Linked DNA regions of Homo sapiens: regions 2 and 3 are each reported to be linked to region 1. The links are microRNA targets in miRTarBase. Many come from high-throughput screens and were not tested one by one. Region 1 holds a microRNA gene; each other region holds the end of a gene's coding sequence.

Region 1 (3,000 bases):
GTTTCCGTAACCATTAAATGTCAGCAGCACCCTCGTGCCCCTGGCCAGAATGACTTGTCCCTTTCTCTGAAGTCCTACAGAGGCTTTGCTTAGCCCTGATCACTTTCTCTCCTGTTCTATAAACAGCAGAGCCTGGGGGTTACAGGAAATGTGTGTGGAGTCAGACTGCTCCGTACTGTGTGTCCTCTGGCTTGTGTTTTCACCTCTCTGAGCCTTGGTTTCCTCATCTTTCAAATGGGGGTAATCATTGTTCCTAGCTCTTGAGATGGTTGTGAGCAATGGATGTGTTAATCTGAGGAAGACTAAGCTGAGTGTGTGCCTCAGGTGTGCTAAGCTTGCAATAAATGTGAACGGTTGCTATCCTTGCTTTCTACCAATGGGAAGCTCAATTCACAGTAGGGGAACAGGGGGCCAGTGTACCAGGTTTTTCATCTCCAGCTCTCCCCCACCCACTGTGTTCTGAGCCTTACAGGGCAAGGGTCTGACTGGCTTGCCAAGTAGCTGAGAGGCCCCTCCAGCCTGCCCACTCAGGGTACCATCCAGGTTTTCTCAAAGGCCCCCTCCCCACTCCAATTCAGCCTCCCTAATCTGGGAAAGGGGTAGACTCCTTCATGGCTGTACCCTCCTTCTTTGCCCAGTGCCTGCCAGGCACCACCTTCCCTGCCATGATCATGGGAATGGCTGTCAATTCTTTTTTTTTTTTTTTTTTTTTTTGAGACAGAGTATTGCTCTTGTTGCCCAGGCTGGACTGCAGTGGTGCAATCTCGGCTCACTGCAACCTCTGCCTCCCGGGTTCAAGAGATTTTCCTGCCTCAGCCTCCCTGAGTAGCTGGGATTACAGATGCCTGCCACCATGCCCGGCTAATTTTTTGTATATTTTAGTAGAGATGGGGTTTCACTATGTTGGTCAGGCTGGTCTCGAACTCTGACCTCAGGCGATCCACCTGCCTCGGCCTCCCAAAGTGCTGGGATTACAGGTGTGAGCCACCGCGCCCAGCAGCTGTCAATTCTTGTGCCAGACATTGTACTAACAGCATTATGTGTGTTGCCTTGTGCAGTTGCCCCAAGAGCCCCACAGGTCGTTGTATTATTGTGCCCATTTTACAGATGAGAAAACCAAAGCTCTGAGAGGAGTGACTGGCCCAAGGACACCTAGGGAGTGGTGAGGCAGCGATTGAAACCCAAGTCTGGTGACTCCAGAGCTCATGCTCTTCTCCACTTCTAGAATGTGCCTCCCTGCTCAGAGGAAAGGCTTGGCTCTGATGAGGGTCTCTAAGGCAGCTGTCCAGCTTCCAGCTCCATCAACATCCTGAGATAATGCAATGGGAGGGTTCTACAACTCACAAACCTGCCATAAAAATGCAATCTCTGTGATAATGGTCAGAATAATGTTGTTCTAACTTAGACAAATCGGGTGTTAACTCATTATGTTGTAAGGGGCGCCTCCACAGAGAATGGAGACTACGAAACAGTCACAGGGCCATTTGCAGCTTGTACTTCCAAATACAATAGCTCATCAGGCCTTCACAGCCATCCTGAAAGGGGCAGGAGCCACGGGGCCCACTTTAGAGATGAGGAAACTGAGGTCTGGGAGATAATATGACTCGCCCAAAGCCAGCAGCGGGACCAAGCTTGAAGCCCAGGGCCAATCTTAATAGCTCATCTATCCAGTTCAAATTCTTAGCCAACATTTGAAAATCAAGAGATTTTACAGAAAAGTCCTGTTTCTGGCGTTTCTGAAAAGTCAGACAATCTGGTTTCACAGGGCCCACATTCCCACATGGCCACAGTTGGCTGGAGTGACTGCCTCTTAAGACAGAATGTGTGAGCACCAGGGGTACCTCTCTACTGACTTGCAACATACATTTGTCTTGGTGTGTTGCAAGTCGGTGGAGACGTACCCTTGGTGCTCAACCCCTGTAAGGGCTTGAGTTTGCCTCCTGGATCTGCCCCTGTTACCCTGTGTGACCTGGAGTCAATTGCATGGCTTCCCGAGCCTCAGCTCTCTCTTCTATAAAATGACAGGGGTGAGACTCAGTGATTTTGGAGGCCTCTTCCAGCTCCAGGATTCAGTGCCCATTGCCAGGGTTCAGGGGTTCAGGCAAGGGAAGGGAGAGCTACAAAAAGTACAGGACTCCACTCCTGAAAAGCATATCACTTATCTTTAGCAAGCCACCACAAAACCTACTGGCTTAAAACAATAATGATTTCTTAGTTGTCCTGATTCAGTGGATTGGCTGGGCTCAGCTGGGTGCTTATTCTGTTCCCCGGGTTGTCAGTTGGGATCACTCAGGAGGCTGCACTCAGCTAGGTTGGGCTGGAAATTCCATCGTGGCTTCACATACATCTTTGAGGCCCTCATAGAGAAGGCTGGAAGGCTGGTCCCCCTACGCTCCTCGCTATCTCCCATCCTTTGCTAGTCTAGACTGCGCCTCTATCCATGGCAATTAGCTCCCAAGATGGTGAAATGGAAACTGCAAGGCTTCTTAAGGGCTGGGCTCTAATGTCACAAAGTGTCACCCCTGCAGCCTTCTGTGGTGGTCAAAGCCAGTCACAACACCAGCTCAGATTCATCCCAGGCTTCCTCATCAGGTTCAAGGAAAAGGAAAATATACTGGGCTTGATTTTTTTGTTTTATCCTTGAAGAGAAGTCCCATTTCTTGCTCAGCTGTTCAGCATGGAAAATTTAATGGTGGGTTATCCAGCGTCCCACTCAACATGTCCTGACCCACTGAATCAGGTGACACTCAGAGTTCAGTGCCCGCCCCTGCACCCTGTTGTTGTCCATGTTTCTTGGGCCAACCTGTGGTCCAAACTTGAATCTAGACGCCCCCTTACTGGGAGGAGTGGCTTCGTGTTTAGTAGGGGGAGGAATTGTTGGCAGCCATATTTGGAGACAGCCTCTCACAGGTAGTTTATCGTCCAGTCCAGGGATGGCGGTGGGGAGGCAACAGGAAGCCAGAAATCTCATTCCCCCCCCCCCCCGCCCCAGCACTTACC
Region 2 (3,099 bases), not on the chromosome of region 1:
GCCGAGATTGCGCCACTGCACTCCAGCCTGGGCAACAGAGTGAGACTCCATCTCAAAAATAAAAAAAGAAATTATGAATAGGTAAATTCATATCATTAAAAATTCATTTAAATTCACTTAGAATATTTATCTTTCCAAAACTGTATAAAAGATTGATATAATTTTGGCTCACAATGTAGTTCACATAAGTAATGTATATTTCTCTGTCTCTTTACAGTAAATTGTTGAAGACTACTTCACAATTTCCACTTCCTCTGGCTGTTGGTGTGATTGCTTTTGGGTCAGCACATTTATATAGGCTTCCATGCTTTGTCTTCATTCCTCTTTTACTCCATGCATTATGCAACTTTATGTAAGATTGGACTTAAGGAATGATGAAGATAATTTATGTGTTTAGGGCCAGTGATAAGAGGGAACACACAGATCCATCAGTATGGACAGCAAGATCCTTTGGAGAAGACAAGTCTATTTTTACAATATTGAAAATAGGAAATTAGTTTTGTAATGTTTGAGGGAAGTAGTTGAAGCATGGTTTTGTTTTGTGGTGTGGAATCCATGTAGTAATCATTTTTGAAAAATTCATGAAGGGATATATGGTGATCACTATCATTGAGGACTCCTGTGCATATAAAATAGTCTGTTTTATCAACTGTACGAGAAGTCTGATATGAGAGATTTAGTAGATGCAGCATTATTTGCAGTCTCACTGCAAGCATTCTGCTCATTTCATCAAACTTTTTTTCACAAAAGTAGGTTATTTTGAATTTGCTATAGTTTACCTATTAAGAAATAAGTCTTTAAATAACTGATGAAATTTATAGCTGTTTGGTTTCTCAAAGGTTAAATAGCCACAGAAAGCCTTTGGTTAGTTTTTGGCAGCCACCATGAACAAAGTGGATCTTGTCTTCTTACATCTATGAAAATAGAGCTTTGAATGGTAAGGAGATATGTTTTCTTGGTAACCAATGCAAGATTGATGGGTGGAAACATGATTCAAACTTACACAATTTTTCTTGCTATTTTTCAAATATGAATCTTACTATATATTCTCGGTGAACATCAGGAGACTATTAAAGAGGTCTGCTGTTAAATGTAAAGAAAAAATGCTCGTAGCTATTTGCTTCCTGGTATTGGAGCAGTTCAGTTGTTTAGTTTATACCATTGGATTCAATTCATTGCACCATGGTTGCCAAAAGTGCCTGAGGTCATAATGGATTGTTAAAATAACTAAATTCCAGTGGTTGGAAACTCTAGGTTTGTACCATTTTTTCTGCTGTGGGAAAAAACAACAACAACAACATGATCAAGGTAACATCACATTTGATGTATAATATTATACTATTAATGGAATATCAGTAGACAACTGTTAACCCATTAGTAGCATGAGTATAAACAGTACACCTGAATAAATTGGAGACATTAGCCACTAGGTTTAACAGTGGAATCTTGATTTGCCTAGGTGACTTCTGGGATTACTGTTTGACAAATAAGAGTAACATTTTATTTCATTTCAGAATTTACGTCACTTTTAGCTACAAGAGTAGGAAGAAGGTAATCGGCAAGGCAGAAGAGTATACTCTTTGCCTTAGGATAGCGTAAACTCAGGCTGAGACATACCCGGCTTATAGAGTTCTTCTAGATGTGTAGACTGTAAATGCCCAAATCCTCTCAACTAAAGTTTTAGTGATTCCACAAAGCCTCTCATGTAAATTTCCAGTGATTCCACCATTGCACTTGTGAATATGTATCCTTGTTAGTACCCAGGGATGTCCTCGAGCACCAGTTTTATTTTATCTGCCATTGCATCTGGATTCCATTACAGCCTCTCAGCTGTTACTGCCTGTGGACAGTTACTTCTGCTTACTGCCTGTAGAGAGTTACCTAACTTCTCTTCTCAGTTCTTCCTCAGGTCCTGGCTATTTTGGCCTCAGTTGAAGGGAGTCTTGCTCTCATCTCTGAGGGTTTTAAGTTTGTTTGATCCCATTGTTGTCTTTTCTAGCTTTGAGCATGTTTTTCAGTATTCATATTTTAACTTACTGAGAACATTAAAGGGAAATGATAAACTCGTGGTGGGGATATGGCAGACAGGTGCTTGTTTGTTTGAGAGAAGTAGCAGAAGAGATAAAATACAAAGTGCTATATGTTTCAGCTGGAGAGGAAAGAGAGAGAATTTATTAGATTATATACTTGTCCCATGGCATACCACGTATATGTTTAAATAGGGACACATCTCCCTATGTTTAACTATACTTATAAACAACTTTGATACACATTGCGTCTTTTATTCTGTCACCTGATATTTTAGTGTATCTCAAGTTACAGATTACATGTGTCCTTAAACTATTTCTGAATTTGGACTTAGTTCCATATACAGAAAGAACTTTAGAAAATTCATTAATTTGGATCTTCTATTGATAGCCATAAATATTATGTTTATGTATTCTAAAACCTCTTTGTTTAGTTAGTACTGTTCATGAATGTAACAAGCTTCAATTTCTCATTTGTGAGTAGTACATTTGCTTTTTGTTTGTTTGTTTGTTTGTTTTTGAGATGGAGTCTCACGCTGTCACCAGGCTGGAGTGCAGTGGCGCGATTTCAGCTCACTGCAACCTCCACCTCCCAGGTGCAAGTGATGCCCCTGCCTCAGCCTCCCGAGTAGCTGGGACTACAGACACCCGCCACCACACCTGGCTAATTTTTGTATTTTTAGTAGAGACGGGGTTTCACCATGTTGGCTAGGCTGGTCTCAAACTCTTGACCTCGTGATTTGCCCGCCTCTGCCTCCCCAAAGTGCTGGGATTACAGGCGTGAGCCACCACGCCCAGCCGTACATTTACTTTTTAAAGCAGCAGACTAGGTACACTAATTCTCACTCAAATATTTTCATGGGAATGTAGTTATCACCAAGTCCTAAAGTATTATTTATGCCAAAAAAAATTTCATTTTAAGGACTACAAAAATGATTCTAATTAAACATTTTATAATCAATAGTAGGTTGGGTCTTTAGCCATTATATGTGTATATATACAGACACATATGTATACACTTACATTTTGACAGGGTCTTCATTGAGTCTTGATGCACTTTAAACCCAGCTGG
Region 3 (3,099 bases), not on the chromosome of region 1:
TTGAAATTATAATATTAAGATACAATTACTGCCTTCACATGCAGGATTTTTGATTAAAAAAAAGAAAAACCTTGGTGGCCTCTGCTCTATGTTAATATCCAGACACCTTCTCTGTGGTTACAAGAGAAGCTTGAGTGAGGGCACTTTCTGTCCTCAGAAGTCTGTGGAATGACTTTTTGGTAGTGTTTTCTCGTCTCACTGAAACACAACATGGCAAGGTGGGTAGCACAGGATTCATTCTTATTTTGCAGCTGAGGAAACAAGCTCAGAGAGGTCAACGGACCTACTATCTGCTCTCCAGCTGGAACTGGAACTGAAGACATCTGACTTCAGTAACTCAACATTCTACTGCCACTTCCTGTCCTGGATACACAACGGGAGTAATGCCAGAGCTGCTTCTAAGAACAGGTGCGCAAAGGAAGTGTTTTAGTCTCATTCTTCTGACAATTGCCAAGGAAATACTCCTCAGGCCTTGTGTGCACAGCATTGCCAAAAGTCTGTGGTTAGGAACATACAAAACCACAATGGAGACTGGGAGTGGGAAGATGCGCGGAGAAGATACTGGGAGGTCTGTGGCTTGCCCCTGGCTTGAGTTTCACATTGAGTGCTTACACTGTCCCAGGTACTGTGCCTGGACCACAGAGCTGACAGTGGGATGGTCCAGGAGTCTGCCCGGTGGTGCTCTCATTCCAGTGGGTTCAACAGTGAGCCAGAAGCTGCCAATAAGAGAGTAGTGGACTGCATCGGGCCGACCTTAGTGTTTTGTTTGGTCCAGATAGTGTTTAGTTATTTAAGTTGCTCACTTCTAGCTTCTGTGAAGCAATTTCTGCTGGATTCCTGAATAAGTAGCAGCCACCCCCCATCCTGCAGGCAGGACACAAGCCCGCCCTCCAGCTCACTTCTGTCCCCACCTTCTACTGCCTTACACCCAGGTAACTGACCCTTCACACATTTACGGTGCCCATCTGACATTCATAGCATTTAGAGGGGGGACGAAGCCAGGTTACACAGGACCTTGCAGGCCATGGTAAGAATTTTGGATTAAGTGTTTTTAGCTAGGCACGATGGCTCACACCTGTAATCCCAGCACTTGGGGAGGCCAAGGGGGGTGGTGGATCATTTGAGGTCAGGAGTTCGAGAGCAGCCTGGCCAACATCGTGAAACCCTGTCTCTACTAAAAATACAAAAATTAGCCAGGCGTGGTGGCACATGCCTGTAATCCCAGCTACTCTGGAGGCTGAGGCAGGAGAATCGCTTGAACCTAGGAGGCGGCGGTTGCAGTGAGCCGAGATTGCGCCATTGTACTCCAGCCTGGGTGACAAGAGATTGTCAGAAAAAAAAAATTGTTTTTACTATTTTTGGTTTAGAAAAATTCTTTTGGATTTTATTCCAAGTGTGATGGGAAGCCTTGGGGGGTTTTAACTAGGGAATAATGTGATCTGGTTCACATTTTCAAAAGATCATTCTGCTATATAGAAAAGTAATGAGGCAACAGAGGAAGCAGGAAGATCCATTAGGAAGCCATATTATAGTGGCCCACTAGGTGACAGTAGCCAGGACCAGGATGGTAACAGAAAAGCTGGAGAGAAGCAACAGCCTCAGGATGTCACATGGAGTGTAACCAAAAGAACGTTCTGGTGAACAGATGACAGCTGTGGTGGTGGGACAGAAGGGATAATGAATGGGGAGTCATCAAGGATAACTCCACGGTTGTGGCTTGTTCCAACATTGAGAGGTCAGGGGCAACCAGGGGGGGTCATAGTTTTCGTGAGAGAGATCAAGAGTTTGACTTGGGATGAATAAATTTGCCTACACTCAAGCCTTCCCAGATACCTCATTTCCCTTACCTGCCACACCCACGCAGCCTTCAAATTCACAAATTTAAACTTCTCAATACCGACTCTCTTATCAAATGTACCCCTTCAACTTCAATACCCATTGCCTCTGTCCTGCTCTGGTCCTCTCTTGCCTTGACATATATAACAATAGCTATGAATAAACTAACACAAAGCACTTAATAAGGGTGTATCTCTCTCTCCCACCAGCCATCTTTGATGGCAGAAACCATGTCTTATTCGTATTTAATCCCCAGCTCATATTTATTTGGGCACAGAGTGGGCACTCAAATATCTGATGAACTTGATGAACTGAAAAGAGGTCTCCTTAAACAAGATATCATCTCCCGAAGAGAGAAGTCCCAACCATATAAAATGTATGATCAAGTCCCAGAAAACTTTGCCTTCCCAAGGAATGTGTTTCTAATTTGGTTTCAAAGCACACTGGTTCCCACTTTTACCACTTTCATGACATTGGACAATAGTACTACTCTTTTCTACTTTTCTTCCAGACCTGGGGACTTGATATTCTCTTAGCCTCATATCATCTTTGCAAGGAGTTCACAGAGAGGATTATTCTCCATCTTACAAATAGAACTGAGGCCCAGAAGGAAATCCCTTAGTGTCTTTTTGATGGAACACAGTTCTGTGATGGGAAGCTATCCCAGTCTCCCATCCTTGCAAAACTGCTGCTTAGTACTCAGGTGTTCTCTAGGTTGTTCTGGAACATTTACAAACTTCTTTGGGTGTGAGGATGTGCTGCCACAAGGCCAAAAATCACATTCTCTCTCTCTCTCCTCTCCTCTCTACCATTCTCCTCAGTGCCAGGTGGGGACAGATTCCACCCACTGGGCCTGGGAGGAAGAAAAGCACCTTGGCCACTAGTCAGGGAGGAGTCACAGCCAGCAAGAAGAGAGAGACCTAAGTAGACAAGAGTAGTTTCAATGGGAAGAAGCAGGGCCACCAGTAAGAAAACCAGGAGACTCCTTCTGAAAGGCTTCCACCTGGGAGGAAAGATGGCAGCAGTGCCATGAGGAGGCCAGATCCCTCCTCCTCAATCCTCTGCGCCGGGCCCTCCCAGAGTCACTTCTTCAGGGCACCCAGGCTCTTCAGGGTCTCTTGGGCCTGGGTCAGCTGCTGCTGCAGCCTCTGGCGGGTGCTCTCGTTGGAGGCCCGCTTCAGGTGGCCCTGCATCTCCTCCACCATGGCTCGGTGGCCAGGAGTGTTGTGAAACAGCCGCACCGCCCGGTCCCCACAGGAGGCC

What was found. The annotated mature microRNA hsa-miR-4684-5p reads CUCUCUACUGACUUGCAACAUA and lies in region 1 at 1,842-1,863, shown strand. An mRNA with a match to its seed (bases 2 to 7 or 8) in the 3' UTR can be bound and repressed. Matches are read on the target gene's strand: a 7mer-m8 pairs with bases 2 to 8, a 7mer-A1 pairs with bases 2 to 7 and ends in A, and an 8mer does both.
Region 2: the mRNA of PGAP1 is a reported target of hsa-miR-4684-5p. Seed matches in the 3' UTR shown: 7mer-m8 at 1,870-1,876 and 7mer-m8 at 2,710-2,716.
Region 3: the mRNA of TBL2 is a reported target of hsa-miR-4684-5p. Seed matches in the 3' UTR shown: 7mer-m8 at 2,639-2,645, 7mer-A1 at 2,543-2,549 and 7mer-m8 at 1,169-1,175.

Annotation. Positions count from the first base shown.
Region 1 is chr1:22,717,689-22,720,688 of GRCh38, forward strand. It overlaps MIR4684 (microRNA 4684), which reads left to right and starts at 1,829; the gene lies at 1,829-1,910. The region is part of intron 1 of EPHB2 (EPH receptor B2); the gene reads left to right. RefSeq lists an enhancer at 1-165.
Region 2 is chr2:196,838,491-196,841,589 of GRCh38, reverse strand. PGAP1 (post-GPI attachment to proteins inositol deacylase 1) reads left to right here. Exons shown (of 27, transcript NM_024989.4): 27 at 218-3,099. The coding sequence ends at 356. Among named protein-coding and RNA genes, the nearest start is that of C2orf66, 31 kb to the right of the region's middle.
Region 3 is chr7:73,567,589-73,570,687 of GRCh38, forward strand. TBL2 (transducin beta like 2) reads right to left here. Exons shown (of 7, transcript NM_012453.4): 7 at 1-3,099. The coding sequence ends at 2,919. Among named protein-coding and RNA genes, the nearest start is that of TBL2, 9.4 kb to the right of the region's middle.